Linked DNA regions of Homo sapiens. The protein of the gene in region 1 interacts with the protein of each later gene in a pairwise test. Each region holds a gene or a part of one and is shown on either strand. Other genes may lie near its edges. The genes, in order: TBX5 and KDM6A.

What was found.
Region 2: the proteins of TBX5 (region 1) and KDM6A interact in a two-hybrid assay, tested with the Homo sapiens proteins (one study listed by BioGRID).

Annotation. Positions count from the first base shown.
Region 1 is NC_000012.12:114,359,267-114,369,255, reverse strand, and holds part of TBX5 (T-box transcription factor TBX5), read left to right. Parts: intron 1-2,864; coding exon 2,865-3,091; intron 3,092-9,989. UniProt on the Homo sapiens protein: DNA-binding protein that regulates the transcription of several genes and is involved in heart development and limb pattern formation. Binds to the core DNA motif of NPPA promoter.
Region 2 is NC_000023.11:45,063,173-45,073,161, reverse strand, and holds part of KDM6A (lysine-specific demethylase 6A), read right to left. Parts: intron 9,741-9,989; coding exon 9,345-9,740; intron 3,584-9,344; coding exon 2,805-3,583; intron 1-2,804. UniProt on the Homo sapiens protein: Histone demethylase that specifically demethylates 'Lys-27' of histone H3, thereby playing a central role in histone code. Demethylates trimethylated and dimethylated but not monomethylated H3 'Lys-27'.

The DNA.
Region 1 (9,989 bases):
GTCCATTGATACATTCTCTTGTAAACTCTCTCAGCCAACATTTTTTGGAGGTTATTTTCTTTAATTAAAAAGAAAAACTGTTCCTATTAAAAATATAAAACCAAAAGAGATTTCCCCCTTCCTCTTGGAGCTCTGACAGCAAAATATTGGAACTAAATAGATCTAAATAGAATTGTCGGCAAGTTTTGACAACTTTTATAATGTTTTATTGTTATTATAATTTTTCTTCTTTTTCTTTTTTTCTTTTTTTTTTCCATTACGTAGCTTGAACCACAAAGCAAGAGCTGTAAAGCTAATTCCATTCCCTTCAGCCTCCTGGCCCCAGGGGGAGATTCTGACTGGTGCGGCTGCTCGGATGGCTCCAGCTTTGGTTCTGAGATGGCACAGGGAAGCTGGGCTAGGAGACCCCTGGGTGTCCTGAGGGTGTCTGTAGACTCATGGAAACTTGGCAGATGCTCTGTGTTCCTGCCTGGCCACTCTGGTGTGCTTTCACATGACAAACAAAGGCAGGGACATAGGGTGGAGATGTTCACACACTTGAGGGGGTAGAAGTAGAAAGAGTCTTGTACCCCAAAACCCTGCTCCCCTAAAAGCATATTGTGTTCTAAAAATTGAAAGACATCATTAGGATACAATGCAAAAGTTATGAGGAAATGATTGGATTAGAATTCTAGTTGTGTCTCTTTCTAACTCTGTGATCTTGAACAAGTTGCTTCATCTCCCTGGGCCTCAACTTCCTCATCTGTAAAATGGGATCAAAGATAATACCTATCACATAGAGTCATAGAAAGGATGAAATGGACGAATTCAAGATCCTTCAAAATGCGTTACGTGTAGCTCTTTGCGCATGATATTATTTCAGGTATACTCTTTAATTTTAATAGTTAAGCATTGATTGATTGATTGATTGATTGATTGATTGAGACAGGGTTTCACTCTGTCACCCAGGCTGGAGTGCAATGGTGCAGTCATAGCTCACTGCAGCCTCAAACTCCTGGGCTCAAGCAATCCTCTTGCCTCAGCCTCCTGAGTTGCTATGACCATAGGCACATAAACATTCGTCTTAATTGCATTAAAATAACTATAATTAGCACCACAAGCCTGTAATTTCACAGATATGATCACTTATAGTGAAGCTTAACTTATTTAGATAAATGATTAATTTTTAAAATGTCATAAGTTAAAGAATAGATGGCTGTATGTCATGGTGAAAATTGTGTCTGACTGAAGTTTGGGATTTACTGACACATGCTCCTTCTAGGATAGGGGTTCTTAAACTGTTTGATGCCATGGGCCTCTCTGGCAGTGTGTTGAAGCCTATGAATCATCTCTAAGAATAATATGATTAAATGCATGAAATAGAATACATAGGTTACAAGAGAAGCCAATTATATTTGAAATATAGTTACCAAAATATGTTTTAAATGGCTGTTTAGCAATATATGCAGTTTGTAAATGCCATGCCCAAGATTCCCTATCCCCATCCTAAATGCTGGATATGGGATGTTAGGGGTCAAGCTCTTCTTCTCTCACATACTTGGATATTTCTCTCTTTGTCCCTTCTATCTTGAAGCACCCCCACCCCCACCTTCTCTCTACTCCTCTGCAACCTTCCACATCCCATCCATTCCCCACCTCTCTCATTTCCTTTGAGCCTCCTGCTGCTGCACAGCACGACTTTCCTTCTTCCCAGGAGAGGTTTCTACTGAGTCCTTCTGAGGAAAAAAAATGGGAACACCTGGTATGAAATCTGAAGGTAAGGGAATGTGGAGGACCAGTCCTAAGAGTGTGAGGGGCCAGATTTTGAGCACACTGAGGGATGCTATACCTATGATGTCATGGAATTTTTATTATGCTTACTTTGCCTGTGTGAGCCCTGAAGCTCAGGGGAGGGTTGTGTGTCAGATGGACACACAGCCTGTAAGGGATAGGGATGGGGCCTGAATTGGGAGCTGCGTAATCTTAGATCCCATGCTGATTTTTTCTTTTCTTTTCTTTCTTTCCTTTTTTGTTTCTTTTTTCTTTCTTTCTTTTTAAATCTTCTATGTCCTTGTTCCTCCTTCTTTCTCATTTTCTTTCCCTCTCTTTTTTCCCTCCCTCTATTCTCTCTGCCCAAAACAATAACAGTAATGACGATGGTTGCCATTTGTTGAGCATTTACTCTGTGCCATGTACCTTTCTGAGTCTTTTCATGGTTAACTCATTAACCCGTTTCTTCTATCAACAGCCCTTTGAACTGGGGACATTCATTATCCCTACTTTACAGATGGGAAAACTAAGGTATGGAGAAGTTAAGTATATCAGTGGCCACAAGGACAGAAGCTCAGGAGGAAATTCTGACACTAGCAGCAATCTATCCAGATGAGAGTAACTTAGGATTATACCTGACCTTCCTAGGTTGTCAGCTACCAGTTTTTACTAACTTTGGGCAATGACCTGAGCCCCACCTTAAAGATGGACACCCACAGGTTAAGTCTAAATAAATACTCAGATTAACTAGCTTTCAAATTAGGGAATTTAAAGACATACATAGACTAAATTGACATATTTCAAAATACCATGTGTGTTTATTGATTGTTAAAAGGGGTTCTTAACTGGGGGTGTTTATTTACTTTTCTGCTGAGGTATAGAACTGTTGGTAAATCTACTTGCCTAATGTATAAGGCATGAAAAATTAGTACCCAAATATACATTTGTGAAATATGATGGACATGAATATAACTGGATCATTTTATTCATCAAAGACCTCTTTTTTTTCCTTATTCTGTGACTTTTCTGGTGGATTCTCTCACACCTGGTTCAGCCACTCAGGAAATCTGTATCAGGGCACTGATAGGCGTTATCTCCCATCTTTTCTCTTTCAGTAAAGAATATCCCGTGGTCCCCAGGAGCACCGTGAGGCAAAAAGTGGCCTCCAACCACAGTCCTTTCAGCAGCGAGTCTCGAGCTCTCTCCACCTCATCCAATTTGGGGTCCCAATACCAGTGTGAGAATGGTGTTTCCGGCCCCTCCCAGGACCTCCTGCCTCCACCCAACCCATACCCACTGCCCCAGGAGCATAGCCAAATTTACCATTGTACCAAGAGGAAAGGTGAGTGTGATCACCCCTGGTCAATTTGCTTTCTTTCTTACCTTTTCCTTTCCTTGGGTTGGGGGTGAGGGGGTGAGGAGTATTCATTTATTTACTTTATTTATTTAAAAATGTAAACAACACAAAAATATATGGAGATAAGAAATTTAAACCAAACAGCTAAAACAAAAAGTTCCCTTGACATGTTCCTACCCCCAGTTCCAGCCCCTCCTTTGGAGAAAGCTTATTTGAAATGTTCAGACCTATTGTATTCATTTATGCACACATACACGTGGCGAGTGCAGAGAAAGAACTAGATTTATTTTTACTTTTTTTTTTCTTTTTTTTTTTTTTTTGAGACAGGATCTTGCTCTATCACCCAGGCTGGAGTGCAGTGGTGTAGTCATGGCTCACTGCAGCCTCAACCACCTGGGCTTAAGTGATCCTTTCACATCAGCCTCCCTAGTAGCTGGGACTATAGGCATGCGTTCACACACTGTACTAAATTTTTGTTGTTGTTGTAGAGACAGGGTCTCACTGTGTTGCCCAGGCTTGTCTAAACCTCCTGGGCTCAAGTGACCCACCTGCCTTGGCTTCCCAAAGTGCTGGGATTACATGCCTGAGCCACCACACCCAAAATTTTTTTTAAAAACTTTTAATATAGATGAAATCACACTGTATGTATTTTGCAACTTGCTGTTTTTTTTCTTTTAAACTTTAGAATGTGTTTTGGGTATCTTTTTATGAACCTAGACTGCCTTATTTTATTTTTAACTGCTAAGGAGGAAGAATTGACTGGAAAGGATAAAATGGAGTTTATTTTGTCACTCCCTCTGGTAGGCAGGGAGGTTGCTTGAGTGGTCCCTGATGGTATTACAAGCCGTGATGCAGGAAAACCCCTTGTGACTATCAATGCTTCTCTGGCATATGTGTCAGTGTTTCTCCCAGGTGGATTTTGAACTCTTTTTTTTTTTTTCCTGATCAAAACCAACACACACACACACACACACACACACATCACAAATGATTTTCCCCGTCTCATCCCCCATTTAAATCTACTAAGCTGAGGCATTCCGCAGTTTTCTTTGCCACATGAGAAATAAATGGCTTTTTTTTTTTTCTAAGTCATCCAAGTCCAAAGGGGCTAAGCTAAAGAAAGAATTTTCTGGTGGCCCTTCTTGTGAGCCAGAATAGAAGTGTTTGGCACAGGTGGTGTGGTGGAGTTCAGCTCGATAGAACCATTGCTTGGTGTGAGCTGTAGATGGTATGGTGGGGAGACTGCAGCCTTTGGGGACAGAGAGATGCGGGTTTGAATCTCATCTCTGCTCCCTGCTTCTTGTGTGACCTCACTCAGGTGTTCTAGCCTCTCCTAGCCTCAGTTTCTCACTTTGTAAATGATATGTTTCCTAAAGCATCTGATAGTTAGCAAGTACGCAGTAGGTGGCAGCCATGATTGGGTATGTGGCAGATATCGCTCCAGAAGGTGATTCCCAGGAGGAATCTGCCTCTTGTCTTTGGACTGGCATTAATTTAATCAGTCTTCCCAGAGAAGACTGCCTCTCTAGGTGAGAGCTTGAGAAGACAGATACAGAAGGGATGGGGTAGGCTAAAGTTTACATCTGTGGTCTGTAGAATCAATCAGGATGAAGTTCACCTTTGCAATTTAAAAATTTTCATAAGTAGTGACAAGTTGCTTAACCTTTCCAAGCCTCATTTTTAAAAATCTGTAAATATGGGCTCAGGGTACGACTTGTCTCATAGGCTTGGTGCAGAGATGTCAAAAAATCATACACATCATATGTTATCTCAGGGTTGACTCAGAAAGTAGTAGCTGTTTTGCTCTAAAAGACACTAATTTTAATCTACAAAGTGGCCTGTTGAACCTCACAGCCTCAGTGGTCAACACAAGCCTTTGTGAATCCAGTGCCCAGTGCCTAGCCCTTTAGGAAAAAATAACTCGCTAACAACCAATGGGAATGGATGCTTTGGTAGCTTTTTCTGGAGCTGGGGTTACATGAGGAAAGTAACATAGTTTGACTATTTGACATTTACCAATCTTGCGTTTTAAAGGAGGGAAGAGCTGTCATTGGTATTTACATGGGGCTAGGAGCTGACCTGGATGAGGCCTGACTTCCAGACTTACCTGAAGCCAATCCAAACTCCTTGAATCTCAAAGGCCTGAACAATATCACTCCAACAGGCCCCCTGGCGTGACTCCCGGCACGTCTGCTGCCGGATGGACTGGAGACCAGATGCCTGCAAATATGTCTGCCTCTTTAGGCATGAGCAGGAGGTTAAGAATGTCCTATGGGACACAGGTCCCTGAATAGAGATTCTGTTTTATATTATATTTAAGGGTGCCCTTCCTAAGTCCCAGATCAAGCTTTTTCGACAACACTATGGAGTAGATGCTATTATTAACCCACTTTATCAATGGGGAAACTGAGGCTCAGAAAGGTTCCAAACAAAAACTGCCAGTGGTTCTTGAACCCCAGCCTGGTCTGCAGATTCTATACGTGTGCATTTCACCACTACTCTATACCGTCTTGGTTACCTTTGCTCATCTGCTACAATCTCAAAATTTCATTTTCCACTGAAGATCTGTCTTTGAGACTGGGTCAAACATGCTGATTAAGAGCTCACCAGGTTTGAATTCGGGAGCTCTAATCGATTAAATTAATGCCAGACCAAAAGACAGGCAGGAAGAAGTTAAAAAGGATCATGGTGCTTTTTAGGTTCAATATTTACAGCAGCATCCTTATAAATGCATCCCTGAAGGATGCGGCAGGGAGGCTTTGAATGCACGGTTCACAAACCTCTTAGGTTATGACTTGACTTTCATGGACTGTTTGTTGGATCCTTGGATGAGCTTAAAATCAACTTGGAGTGGCCACTGGGGAAGCTGGAGTTGGGGGCTGATCCACTGTAGTAATACTCACAGTTGACGACACTTGGCAGCTGTGTGCCCAGGGGCAAGTTGTTTTACCTTTCTGGGCCTCAACTATCTTTTGTGCAAAATGAGGATAACAATAGCACCTGCTTGATACGGTTGTGATGAGGGGAAATGAGATCATCCACAGAAAGCACCTAGAACAGTGTCTGGCACCTACAAGTGCTCAATGAACATGTGCTTGCCACAGGCCTGCCCTTGTGAAGCTCATACGGTTGCAAGCAGGTTGGACATTATACAAGTAATTATAAATTGCTTAATTGAAATTGTGAAGCCTGGCACTGTGGCTCACACCTGTAATCTCAGCATTTTGGGAGGCTGAGGCTGGAGGATTGCTTGAGTCCAAGAGTTGGGACTAGCCTGGGCAACATAGTAAGACTCCATCTCTACAAAAAATAAAAAATTAGTCTGGCATGTTGGCACATGCCAGTGGTCCTAGCCAACCCAGGAGGCTGAGATGGGAGGATTGCTTGAGCCCAGGAGTTCGAGGCTGCAGTGAGCTGTGATTGCACCACTGCACTCCAGCCTGTGTGACAGAGAGAGACCCTGTCTCAAAAAATAAATAAATAAAATAAAATAAATGATTGAATGCTATAAAGGAGATATGCAAAGTGTTAAGGAATATCAAACTGGAGTGTCAGTCTAGGGTAGGCAATCAGGGAAGCATTGAGGCTGAGATCAGAGGAGACTGAGTGCTGGATAGGAGAAGGGGGAGGTGTGAGGGTATCCACACATAGAGGAAAGCATGCATGAAGCCCCTTGGCTGAGGGAGAGCCTGCCCCCTGGGGAGTGAACAGAAGGCTGAGATGTTGGCACTCAAGGCAAGGGCAAAGTGGTGGGGGATGAGGGCTAGAGGGGAAGGCAGGGACCAGTGAGATGCCAGCCTGTATAAGCCATTTTAATGAAAGATGTCAGATTTTATCCTACCACCAGTGCACGTCCATTGGAGGGATTTAAATTTGTGAGTAACATGCCTAAGTTCTTTATTTGGAAGCAGTCACTGTGCTATGATAGCACAGGACTATTTAGTTGGCACCAGAGACCCATTGAAAGGCTGTCATGGGGTCTGAAACAGGAGATGGTGGCTCCGACCAGGGTGTGGGGAGAAGCTGGAGATGTGGGTGGAATCAGGCCTTAGTGGCTGGTTGGCGATAACAAGGTGAAGAATTACCCCACTTCTTTGTGGATTTGGAAACCAACACTGAGGAACTTACCCAAAGTCACTCAGCTCGTGAGTGGCCCAGCTTGAGATGTATACTGAGGCCTGTGGGCTCAGGGTGAATGGGGTATGCACCCTGGAGAAATCCTTTCACCTTTCCAGAAACTCTGCCCTTCTCACCTCCCTCCACCCCCAAAAGGGAGCTCCCAGTGACAGGGAACATTCCAACCGAGGGCTCTCTGTCCTGCCTAGGAGACAACAAATAGCAATTCATCATCAGCCTCCACACTGTAAAGTGATAAGGAATCAGCCGAGGTTTCCTTCCAGTTGGGATTCTCATTAAGTGATAACTCCATGGGTGGTTTTCCCCCTGGCCCCTGCCTGCCCCACTATCTGACTTCCCCTCATTGTCTGTCTCCTTTCCAATGAGCCCAGGAGTCAGGCCCAATGAAATGTCACAGGGCCAGGCAGGCCGGAGGGCTCCTTGTGTTTGGAACCGGCTGTCTCCAAACTATCTCTCCCGATGGACTGAGCCAAAAAAGCTGGGAAGGTCTTTTATCAATGCCACTCAATCAAATCCAGGACCCCAGGGCCTGGGAGAGCACTTGTCTGTCTTTCTCCCTCTCACCCCTGACTCTCACCCCCACTCGCATTAGAAACTAAAAGCAACCCAAATAAAGATTCTAGCAAAGCCATGAGCTGAATCAGATATTCAAAGGAAAGTTAGAGATTGAGAGGGGAAGGGGAATTCGATATGGAAAAGGGCTTTGCAGGGTGCATTTTCTGAGTGCTATGTTTTAAAATGCGATTTCACATCCATTCCTTTGCTGATTCTCCAGTTCCCTGCAGCAGTCTTTGGACTAGGGGAGATGCCACCCATCTCTATTTTGCAGGGATCTAATGGAGGACCAAGAGACAGGGTTAGATTTTAAGCTTATGTGGCTGATGATTGGCAGATCTGGGATGGATGCATCAGATTAATCTTTATTTATTGAGCACTTAATGTATAATGGACACTGTGCTAGGTGCTTGGGATAAGTGGAGGACATGGTGGAAAAGGCTCCCGCTCTCAAGAAACTTGAATTCTTACTGGATGAGACATATAATAAGCCAGTAAGTAAATTTATTGGTTTCAGGTAGTGACTAGGTGATGTTTCAAACTGAGTCTTTTGATTTCTCGTTGAGAATCTTCGCACAATACCATTCCAACCCTTCCTACTTTATGCTAAGAGCATGGGGACACCAAAAACAAATAACAACAACAACAAAAACAACAACAACAAAAAGTCATCCACCCACTCATCCACCCACCCACCAATCCATCCACCCACCATTCACCCATCCACCCACCCATCCACCCACTCACTCATTCATCCATCCACCCATCCATCACTCATCTATCTATCCACTCACTCATCCATCCACCCACTCATCCATCTACCCACTCATCCATCCAGCCATCACCCCACCTATCCACTTATCCATCCACCCACTTATCCATCCCCCCACCCATCTATCAACCCATCCATCCACCTACCCAACCACTCACTCATCCATCAACCCACCCATCCATTCACCCATCTACCCACCCACCCATCCATGCATCCATCCACCCATCCAACCACCCATCCATCCACCCACTCATCCACCAATCCTCCCACTCATTCATTCATCCATCCATCCACCCACCCACCCACCCATACATCTATCCTCCCATCCATCCATCTACTCATCCACCCACTCATCCATAAGAGTCAAGGTTTGCTACCTTTTCATGTTGGCTGAGCATGTAGGGTTGCGTGAAATGGAAAGCCTGGGGCCATCTGTCAGAATGAGCACTGCTTTGTGAGTCAGAAGACCTGAATTATAGCCACCTTCCCAACTTGCTGAAGGTCACTCAGCTAGAAAGATTACTACTCTGAGTTTCAGGGTCTCTGTCTGGGAAGACTCGCCAATGGTTCTTCATCTGAATGAACTGAATTGGCAAGAGAAATGACCCATTTGGGAATAGTGAAAATATTTGCTCAATAGGATTAGTATTTAAAAGCACTCTGTGAGCTTTCCAGCTCTGTAATCTACCCAAATACTATTAAGTATGGGACAACTTTCAGAAAGCTATCTATCCAGTCTTCCAAAAGAGAAAGAGGGAAAAGAGAATGGACCCAGGTCATTTGGACAGACAAGATTTGAATGCTTTATGTGCAAGGAAGATAAAAACTCAACTGCCCTCATTATTACCTCAATTAAATCTCATAAAAAGTTCAGGTATTATCTCCATTTACAATCAAGAACTGAGATTGGAATGACCTGGTGATTCATCCAGTCACATGGCGAGCGAGCATTGGAGCTGTAACTCTGTGCCTTAATATCTGTGCCTTGGATGCATTACTAAATTCACTTTATCCGGAATCAAAAATATCTAGAAAAATCCAAAGTACTAGGGTTTTCTACAGTGCCATGCCATAATGAGTGGTCAGAATCAGGAAGAATTTACTGTTACCTAAGAGACTCATTTCGGTTTAGGATAGTTGCAATATAACTGACCACTCTTAATATGCAACTTTCTGAAGCCGAGTTGTGGACTCATCTCATCAGAAGACTTGATACTTAAGTATAGCCCATTTACCAACCCTGAAAGTTAATCATGACTTGGCTGGAGATAGGTCTTTGCTGTTGAACAGTTATTGGGCTCTCAAAGAAGAGAAAAAAGAAAGAAACTGAGCCATAACCAAAATAAACACAGAGATTACATCCAGAGCATTTATCATGACTGACCTGAAATTTGGATCCTTGAGTTGGAATTTCTTTAC
Region 2 (9,989 bases), on another chromosome or scaffold:
ATCATTCTGAGCAAATTATCACAAGGACGGAAAACCAAATACTGCATGTTCTCACTCATAGCTAGGAACTGAACAATGAGAACACATGGACACAGGGTGAGGAACATCACACACCGGGGCCTGCTGTGGGGTGGAAGGCAGGGGGAGGGATAGCATTGGGAGAAATATCTAATGTAAATGACAGGTTGATGGGTGCAGCTGGCCAGCATGGCACATGTATACCTATGAAACGAGCCTGCACATTGTGCACATGTACCCTAGAACTTAAAGTATATATATGTATATATATATATATTATTATATTTTTTTAAATAATATACAATTTATTAATACAAACTTATGAAAACTGCTACTATACACAGTTTGTAACTTGGGGAACAGAACATAGCTCCATGGAACTCTTTCTGACAATATTCCTCCTTAGGTCCCATGCAGTTCATGATGTTAGTTTTGAACCTCCAAATCTTCCCCATTTTCTAGCAACTGTCCTGAGTCTACAGAGAGTGGATGAGAGAGAAAGCCCCTGCTCCAGCAGTTAGAGCAGCAGTACCTAGGAAACAGGACAGAGGCCCCAGCAGATGAGTGAGGAGCAGGTAGAAGACAGTCAAACTGGCAGTGAATCAAGGCACTGTCTAAGGAGAGCCAAGTGTAGCATTTAATCTGAACACTCCCTATTTTCTGTAGGCCCAGAGTTGAACTGAATGATAGCCTAACTTCAAAAAAAAAACTAATATAAAAACCTATAATATAAAAATTTCTAAAGAAACAAATTTTAGGAACTCAAGAACCTCACTATATGCTTTAGAAGAATTTCATTTAGAGATCATCCAATGTCCTCTTAAGTTACTGACCTTAAAAAATCTTGTAAGACAGTTAAGATTAATTACAGCAATCACCATGTTGTAGGTCACTAAGGAAAATGCTGCCAACAACGTGGACCCAATAAAGAAAAAAATAAAATATAAAAAAGGATGTAATTTCTGCCCTAGTCTATGTCAGAATAACAACTAAATAGTTAAAATTTGACAGGAAATAATGAAATAGAAACTAACAGAAATAGAAACTAATAGAAAATGAAACAAAGACCAGCTGGGCACAGTGGCTCACGCCTGTAATCCCAGCACTTTGGGAGGCAGAGGCAGGTGGAACACTTGAGGTTGGGAGTTCAAGACCAGCCTGACCAACATGGAGAAACCCCGTCTCTACTAAAAAATACAAAATTAGCCAGGTGTGGTGCTGCATGCCTGTAATCCCACCCAGCTACTTGGGAGGCTTGAGGCAGGAGAATCGCTTGAACCTGGGAGGCAGAGCGTGCGGTAAGTTGAAATCGCGCCATTGCACTCCAGCCTGGGCAACAAGAGCGAAACTGTCTTAAAAAAAGACAAGAAAAGACAAGAAAAGACAAGAAAAGACAAGAAAAGAAAAGAAAACACAGACCAAAAGGTATTTTTAACACTCAAACTCTTTAAAGAAAAATGACTATAGTGTAATTTATAGTAAAGTTCTAGTGTCACAATTAAAGCGATAAATTTAAATTAATTGAAATTTCTTCTCCATACTCCATTGCTCCTACCCCACATCCCTCCCAAGCAGCAAACTTATATATAAATAAAATTTAATTTCACCTCAATCATTCGTCAGTGACAAACATTTAACGGTAGACCCAGGATACCTTCTAATAAAATAATCTGAACAACAGAAAAGATAATCACACTTTTACATAACAATAAATAAGACATATAAGTACTAGCAACTGCAGGAAGAGGTTTATATGGCTATAAATAAGAATTGTTTTGAACTTTAAAATGTAAAAGCTATATTAAATGGTCAATGTAGCCAAACTAGAACTAATGTTTATAATTTCTATTTATAGAATGGTTATTTTCTATATATCATGACAATCTACAACCAAAAAAAGATCTTTTTAAAATCTACTATATGTCTGCTCAAACTTAACATTTAATGTATCAGAAAATATTACAGAATTATTTGTTTGTTCCAGTTATGTTAACTAAATTTCATTCAAGATTTAGTCACTTATAGAGGACAACAACTACAAGTAAATGAGAAAAATTATATATGTGTCATATACAATGAAAAGGCCAGTAAGAATCTATATGTCCTCCAAATATCAGAGAAAGATGATGCTGCCTGATCCTTTGATTCTTCTTTTGTGGGACAGAGGAGGTTCATTTCTTCATAAATTTCTGAGGCCCTGCCCTTCCTAGACTAGCAGAATATGTCTGGCTCCTTCCAGAATGGCTGACAGTCTGTCATGTCTCTCCACTGCCCATTGCCCCTGACCTCTTCCTTCCTCTTCTGCCTGCTTTATAACCTCTTCTAGATTCAAACAGTCCAGTTTTCTCAATTGTAAGCAAAGACTAGCCTTGATAAGTGATGGGGTCCATTCCTAGCCTAACATTTAATAGGCTCTGATAAAAAAAAAAAAAAAACCCATAGGGTTTTCCAGCCTTGCTGTATTTGGCCAAATATGATTTAACCCATTCTCTTGTTTAAATCCCCAGAGCGAAGTCAATCACACTGAAGCTGACAACCTAGTAACCAGTAGAGGGCAGTAACAGCACAATCAGACACACCCACTCAAAATAAGCAATTTACAGGAATACTTCTCACATCTGATTTGACTACAACATCTAAGCAAAATAAAGCTTCTGTCAAACTCTTAGATGAATGACTACACCATCTTTTGCTTACTTCCCATATCTTAAACGGTCCAAATTTCAGCATTCTGATCATGCCAGTAAGTCAAACATTTTCACTTTGATGAACTTTCCCACACTAACCTGCATGCCTTCAGAACTTCTGCTGAGCTGGGGTATATGGACACAGACATTGATGGTATGATCTGTGGACTAGGTTTGTGGTTAACCAGAAGCAGATCTGTTTTCATGGGGCTCTGAGATTCTTCCATCCCTTCTCCATTAATTGTGTGTAGCCCACTGTGAGGGCTGTTAAGGCTGGTAACACTGTTTGTGGTTGTCTGCTCAGTGGATTTTGGAGAAGGTGTTGCTGTTGAAATGGCTGAAGATGGTGAAGAGGCAACAGAGTTATCAGTCTTTGTATGAACAGCTGGGTGGATGTTATTGACTTTGTCACAGGTTCCAGTACCCACATTGTTATTGGCTTTTCCCATCAACAAGGCAGAGAGCTGAGGATTGTCTGAACTTAGTAAACCTGGTGACTTAGAATCTCCATGGCTAGGACTGCAAACAGCATCTGCCGTCATCTGATGGACATGATTAGGAAGTCCCTCGACACTGGCAGTGCTGTTAGGTGTCTCTCCAGTGTGCCTGCTTGTTTCAGGCACCGTCAATATGTTTCCTGAAGGCTTGCTCTCTTTGGTTAAGGTAATGCCTTGTTGTCCACCTGAGGTAGCAGTGTGAGAGGAGAGGTGATTGAGAGCAGCCCCCTGTGTTACTGAATTGCTAGGCAGGGTGGGATGTCCGTTCTGATTCTGAATACCAGAGCCAGCTGCCTGGAGATGCTGGGAAGGCCCAGTGGAAGAGAGAGGTCGTTCACCATTAGGACCTGCCGAATGTGAACTCTGACCTTTGTGAAGCCCCTAAAAAGAAAGAAAAATAGTTTAAATCTAATATTAAGCAAACTCAGAATATACAGAATTTAAAATATTAAAGAGAAAAGCCACTAAAAATAAATATCTAACTGTATAAGATAATTTGACCCAAGTCCTAAAGTTATCAAAAAGTACCTGCAACTTAGCTAATCAGTATTTAACATCTTTAGAGAAATTTTTCTTCCTTGCTATCTAAAATGACTCCATTATTAGTGTAGAATAAACTACTTCAGATGAAGCATTACAAATTTTAAGTTCCAATATACATATTTTCATCTCTAAAATCAGACATGGATAGACATATATCATCATTAATAATTAAAAGCTATGACCATGGATCAACATAAACCAACTCTCACTGGTCTGTGATCTGTTAAAAGATTAATATAGAAAGTGAGTTCATTAAGCCTTTAAAATTATCATTAAAATATAATCTTCTGTAATTCAAATCCTATTGTTAAAGTAGCTATCCTCAAAATTAAGGGCAGAACTATTAAATCTATGAAAATATTTCAAAAAATACCTAAAGTTTCCCCATCTATCCATCCACACATATTTAGAAGACTAGATAGGCTTGGTGCAGTGGCTTATGTCTGTAATCCCAGCACTCTGGAAGGCCGAGGCAGGAGGATCGTTTGAGGCCAGGAGTTCGAGACCAGGCTGGGCAACACAATGAGACTCCGTCTCCACAAAAGAAAAAGAGAGAGAGAAAGGGAAAGGGAAAGGGAAAGGGAAAGGGAAAGAGAAAGAGAAAGAGAAAGAGAAAGAGAAAGAGAAAGAAGAGAGAGGAGAGAGGAGGGAGAGAGGGGAGAGAGGGAAGGAAAGCAGGCAGACAAGCTAGGTGTGTTGACAAGTGTGCCTGTAGTCCAGCTACACAGGAGGCCAAGGTGGGAGGATCTCTTGAGCCCAGGAGTTTGAGCCAGCAGTGAGCTAAGATGGTGCCACTGTACTCCAGCCTGGGTGACAGAGCAGAACCTTGTGTCTCTCTTTTTTTTTTTTTTTTTTAAAAAAAAAGGGGAGAAAAAGACATTTTAAGTCTCCACTAATGACTTTGAGATAAACTTTATTTTTCATCACCTGAATTTGAAAACTTAGAAAAATACACTGCTACTGTTAAAGCAATCTGAGGGGGCAGTATACTAACAGTTAATAGAAGTTTTAAGACTAGAGGAAGATCACTTAGGGCATTTAATAGAATGAAAATATGATAACTGGAACTAATTTTTACCTGAAATTTGCCTCTGGTGTCACAGAGAAACTTCTTTAAGAAGAATATTTTCATTTCATTTTACTTACAAAATAATTAAATAGGACAGCCAATTTTTCAGCAACACTGATTAAAGTAACATTGGAATCATAAAACGAGTTTACATTTGGAGTTGAGATTACTTCAGCAACAAGGTTAGAGCATTTTGTCAGTAATAAGCTATAAAAGAATAAAACTATAGCTGATAACAAGATATTTATATACTAAAAGGTGCATTTAATCATCTAGTTAAAGTCAGCTAGCATGCCCCTAAAATCAGTTTCTGAAGCTGAAAATTTTAAACTAATGTTTTTACTCAATAGGCTTATCTACCTAAAACACTAGATATATTAAAAGTTGATACACATTGGCCAGGCGCAGTGGCTCACACCTGGAATCCCAGCACATTGGGAGGCCAAGGCAGGCAGATCACCTAAGGTCAGAAGTTCAAGACCAGCCTGGTCAACATGGTGAAGCCCTGTCTCTATTAAAATACAAAAATTAGCCGGGCATGGTGGTGGGCACCTGTAATCCCAGCTACTCGGGAGGCTGAGGCAGGAGAATCACTTGAACCTAGGAGGCGGAGGTTGCAGTGAGCCAAGATCGCACCACTGCACTCCAGGCTTGGCGACAGAGCCAGGCTCCATCTCAAAAAAAAAAAAAAAAACAAAAAAAAGATACACACCAGTGAGTGTGTAAAGGAGTGCAATTAGTTGTAAATGATTTAATAAGTAACAAAGTTCAATCATAATAAAGGAAGGTTGAAATTTGTAAGTTACATGAAAATTTCTCATAAAGCAAAAACACTGCATATTATAATCATATCAATATTTAAAATATTATCCAAGAAAGTCTGGGTAGGTGAGTTAAAATTTCATCAAATGTAAAATATTTAATTCAGAGGCCAATTATTTAACAAATACACTGATTACAATATGCAGAAATGTGACAAAGTAACTATTTTATTACATCTTCTCTATCTGCAAATCAAGGTATTTTAAGCTACAAATTCTTTAGAGTACTTGCTGAATAATCACCTACAATTAATATAATTTTACTTTCATATCTTAAATTATACCCTTGCTACCAAAAGCAATCTGAATAAACCCATTCCACACTGTAATGTAAATTCCTCCCTTGATCAAAAACTAAAAGGTAGATATACCATATAGGTCTACCAGTTGTCTAGTTTTCATTACAATTTCAAAAATTATTCAAATAGGTTTGTATAAGACAAGTTACCAAAAAGGCCTCTTTAGAGTCTATGATATTAATACCATATATCAACAGCAGAGACAGAGGCTTCCCAGCTGTAGTGATATGCAGAAACTTCATTTGGGAAACTTTTGACCTGGAATCAGTTCAACATCATTTTCTAAACAACTCTCTCAACCTCATTACTTAAATTGTAAAGTTCCTACAGATAATGGCTTTGAAGGGCGTGTGAAGCAAAGGCTGGGGGCTCCCTGCTACTTAGTATGGTAAATTACAGAAGCCTCGTGGCCTGCCAACTGAGGAGTTCCTTTTTATTAGAATTACGAATTACGTTTTTAAAGAATCCCACATTTCCAAAACAGGGTTAAGAGAGTATTGAAAACTTCAGCAACTAAGTGAGCCAAAGAAGTAGATGTGAGAGAAAAGAAAATAGAACTATGCTTTACAATCATAACAAAGGCTTTCACTTATTAACTGCCAGTTATACCTTAGAACTATGATAGGCATTTTAACAAAAATCTCGTGTTATCCTTTTAACAACTGTTTAATGCTTAAAGACAATGAACCCCCAAAATCCCATCCTCTCACCCATTCTAACAATTCCCCTTTCTCCTTTGCCATTTTCTCCCTCTCTACTGAATCTTTCCCATTGACTTTTACTGTTATTTCTCTCATTTTAAATTTAAAACAACAACAAGACAACAACTCCTAATCCCATTTTCCCTGTCAGCTACACCCGGTTGTTGTTCTCTTTTATGCCACGGTATATGGAAATGGAAGCCTTGGCACTGTGCAGTGTGTAGCCCAAACAACTGTAAGCATGTGTGCTGGAACTGTCTATACTTGCTACTTCAGTTTTTCTCTGCCGATTTTATATTATCTTGAAGCGAACTACAATTAGGCTTTTGCACCCCAACAATCCACTGAAATTGCCCTTATCCAATGGTCAGCATATCTTTTCTGTAAAGGATCAGATAGCAAATATTTTAGGCTTTGTGGGTCACCCAGTATCATATATTATTCTTTTTTTACAACCCTTCAAAAATATAAAAATCATTCTTAGCTCACGGGTTATAAAAAACACAGGTCGTGGGGTAAATTTTGCCTGTAACCTGTAGTTTCCTTACTCCAATAATGTCAGCAAATATCTCAGATGGTCAGTTTTCAGTCCTCACTTTATATGACCTATGAGCATTATTTGATCATGTCCTCCTCCTTGAAACTTTCTTCATTTGGCTTCCAGGGCATCACTCACATTGTCTTTGATCTCCTACTATGTCACAGGTCAATCTCTTCTATTCTTCTCTGCTAGTTCTTCAATTTCCTAGCCTAATACACTGGAATGCCCTAAGGCTCAATCTTGAGTTCTTTTCTCAATCTGTTCTCACTGATTGGTGATACCATCCAGTTTCATCCATCCTTCTAGTTGGTCAGGCCAGCTGGGACTCCTTTCTCACACATCACTCTATATCAACTAATCCTGTTGGCTGTACCTTCCAAATATACCCAGAAGCTGACCACCATCTACTACTACCACTCTGGGAGCCATCATCAACTTTTAACCTGGATTACAGGTATAATCTCTAAAATGGTCATACCATTTCTACTTTTGCCTCTTTCAGTCTATCCACAGAGTACCAAAGAGGACCTAGTCAAAAACAAAGTTAGATCACATCACTCCTCTGTTCAAAATCCCCCTACGGTTTCCTGGATACTCAGAATAAAATCCAGTATCCTTATAAGGCTGATCATGATTTAGCCATCCTGTTTCCAGCTGGAGCACATTTCTCTCTCTTCTCACTCCTTGCCTGTCCTGTTCTGCCATGCTTGCCACCTTGATTCTCCTCAAATGTGCACAGCACAATCCTACCTTAGGGTCCATTGCTCCGTGCTGCTCCCTAGACCTGGAACAATCTTATCACAAATAGCTTCAAGGCTCACTCCTGTAACTCTCATCCAAATGCTATCTTTCAGAGAAGCCTTCCCTGCCCTTCTGATTTATAACTGCAACTCTCCTACCACCAATCTCTAGTATTCTGCTGTTCCCTTTCTATTAGTGCTTTTTTCCATAGCACTAATCACAACCATCATCTAATGTTATATATGTATTGCTTATTTGTTTACTATCTATTTACCTACACCAAGTAGAGACATCTCAGTATATTTTCTTTATTGATGTATTCCCAGAGCCTTGAGTAGGAAATGAACCTAGTAGGTACTCAGTATTTCTCTAAGAATGAATAAAGTACTAATCACTTTAGATCAGGGTCCCACCAAGGATATTAATTCAAGAATAAACTTAAAAATCTTAGAAAAAGAACTTATTTCAGTTTTATCAATAATATAAGACTAACCGACAATCAGCCAAATATTTCTCTTTTTAAGTCAAATATTTCTCATAGTAAATTAATAAAAGTACAAGCAATTTGGCTATACATATTGAGAGCATTTTCTTAAAACTTACTCTTTGGCCCTTCAGTTTCACCTCAGCGAGTACCCATATCATGGAAACAATCCAAAATATGGGAAATACTATGCACATAAACATTCAGAAGTAAAAACTTAGAAATTAAATGTCTAACGAATGTGCTAACGTTGAATACATTATGACCCATTTCCTTGACAAAAATAATGTGCATGCAATTCATTACTCTGTTTCAAAAACTTTAGTGGATCAACTTTGCCTTCAAGATAAATTTGGCCTCTCCCTCAGCCTCTTATTTCACCCTCCCCTCTTCATAACCTATCTTCTAGGCACACTTCACCAGCCCTCTCCTCCCCTAAACTCTAGCTTCTGGAAGACTCTGACATCTTGGTTATGTGCTCTCGTAGGTACTCTGATAGAACTTTCCCACCAAAGTCACACTTCACAGTCATTATGGTAAATACTTATTCACTGGTCTTTTTCTCCCACTAAAGCAAATACCTAACACCTAGTTTAGTGCCTGATCTTAAGTAGGCAGTTTATGCAGAAATGAACTAAGTAATATTACATAAATGTGCTTATGATGCCACTGTAAATTAATGGTGCATTTTGGGTGATTTATATGATCTATTTTCTTCCTTTGTAAATTTGCTAAGTTATCTATGTCGGTAGAGACTGTACAAAGGGAACAAAGATATACTCATGTATGTACATAATGAATCACAATGTAGTAACATTGTAGTGCCACAAAATTCTTATAAAACCAGTTCCCCAAACACTTCTCTCTTCTTCTCTCAAAGTGTATAAAACCCAGTAAAAACATTTATGTGAAAAGCCAACAAGGAAGCTAGTCCTCCTATTACCTGAGTGGAGTTAGATAGTTGGTTTTTCCACGGCTCCTCTGCGCTGCTGGTCAGGTTTGTGCGGTTATGAGGTAGAGTGAGTGCGTTTCGCTGCAGGTAAGGCACGTTTCCATTACTTCCACTTCCTGTTATATGATTATTGCCTATCAAAATAGTGTCTGTACTTCCCAGCGTTCTTGATGTGCTACAGGGAACATGGCCTGCAGAAAAGGGTCCATTGGCCAAAGGCTGCCCAGGGCAGGCAGGACGGACTCCAGGCTGAGAGACGCTAGGCACTCTGGTCAGAGCAAGCTGTGGCTGCTGGCCAGAGACTGAGTTTGTAGGCAGTGATGAGTCAGCTGTTGGCCCATTAGGAATTCCAGTAGATCGTACCTGTGCAACTCCTGTTGGTCTCATCTGTCAAAAAAACAAAGGAAAAGTAAATGCTGGTTGTGTAATCTATAGGGAAGAGAATCTATAGGGGATTCTCTATGAATCCCCAGATGAATATGAAGATGTATAATTAGGGAATGTGTGATTTTACCCAAATGCTTAATTTCTCTAAGTTGAGAAATACATACTTTAAAAACAAGAAATTGTATTTGTTCATTTTAAAATAAACTTCCTTGAAAAAGCAAAAGTCGGTTTCAAAAAAAAAAAATCCCA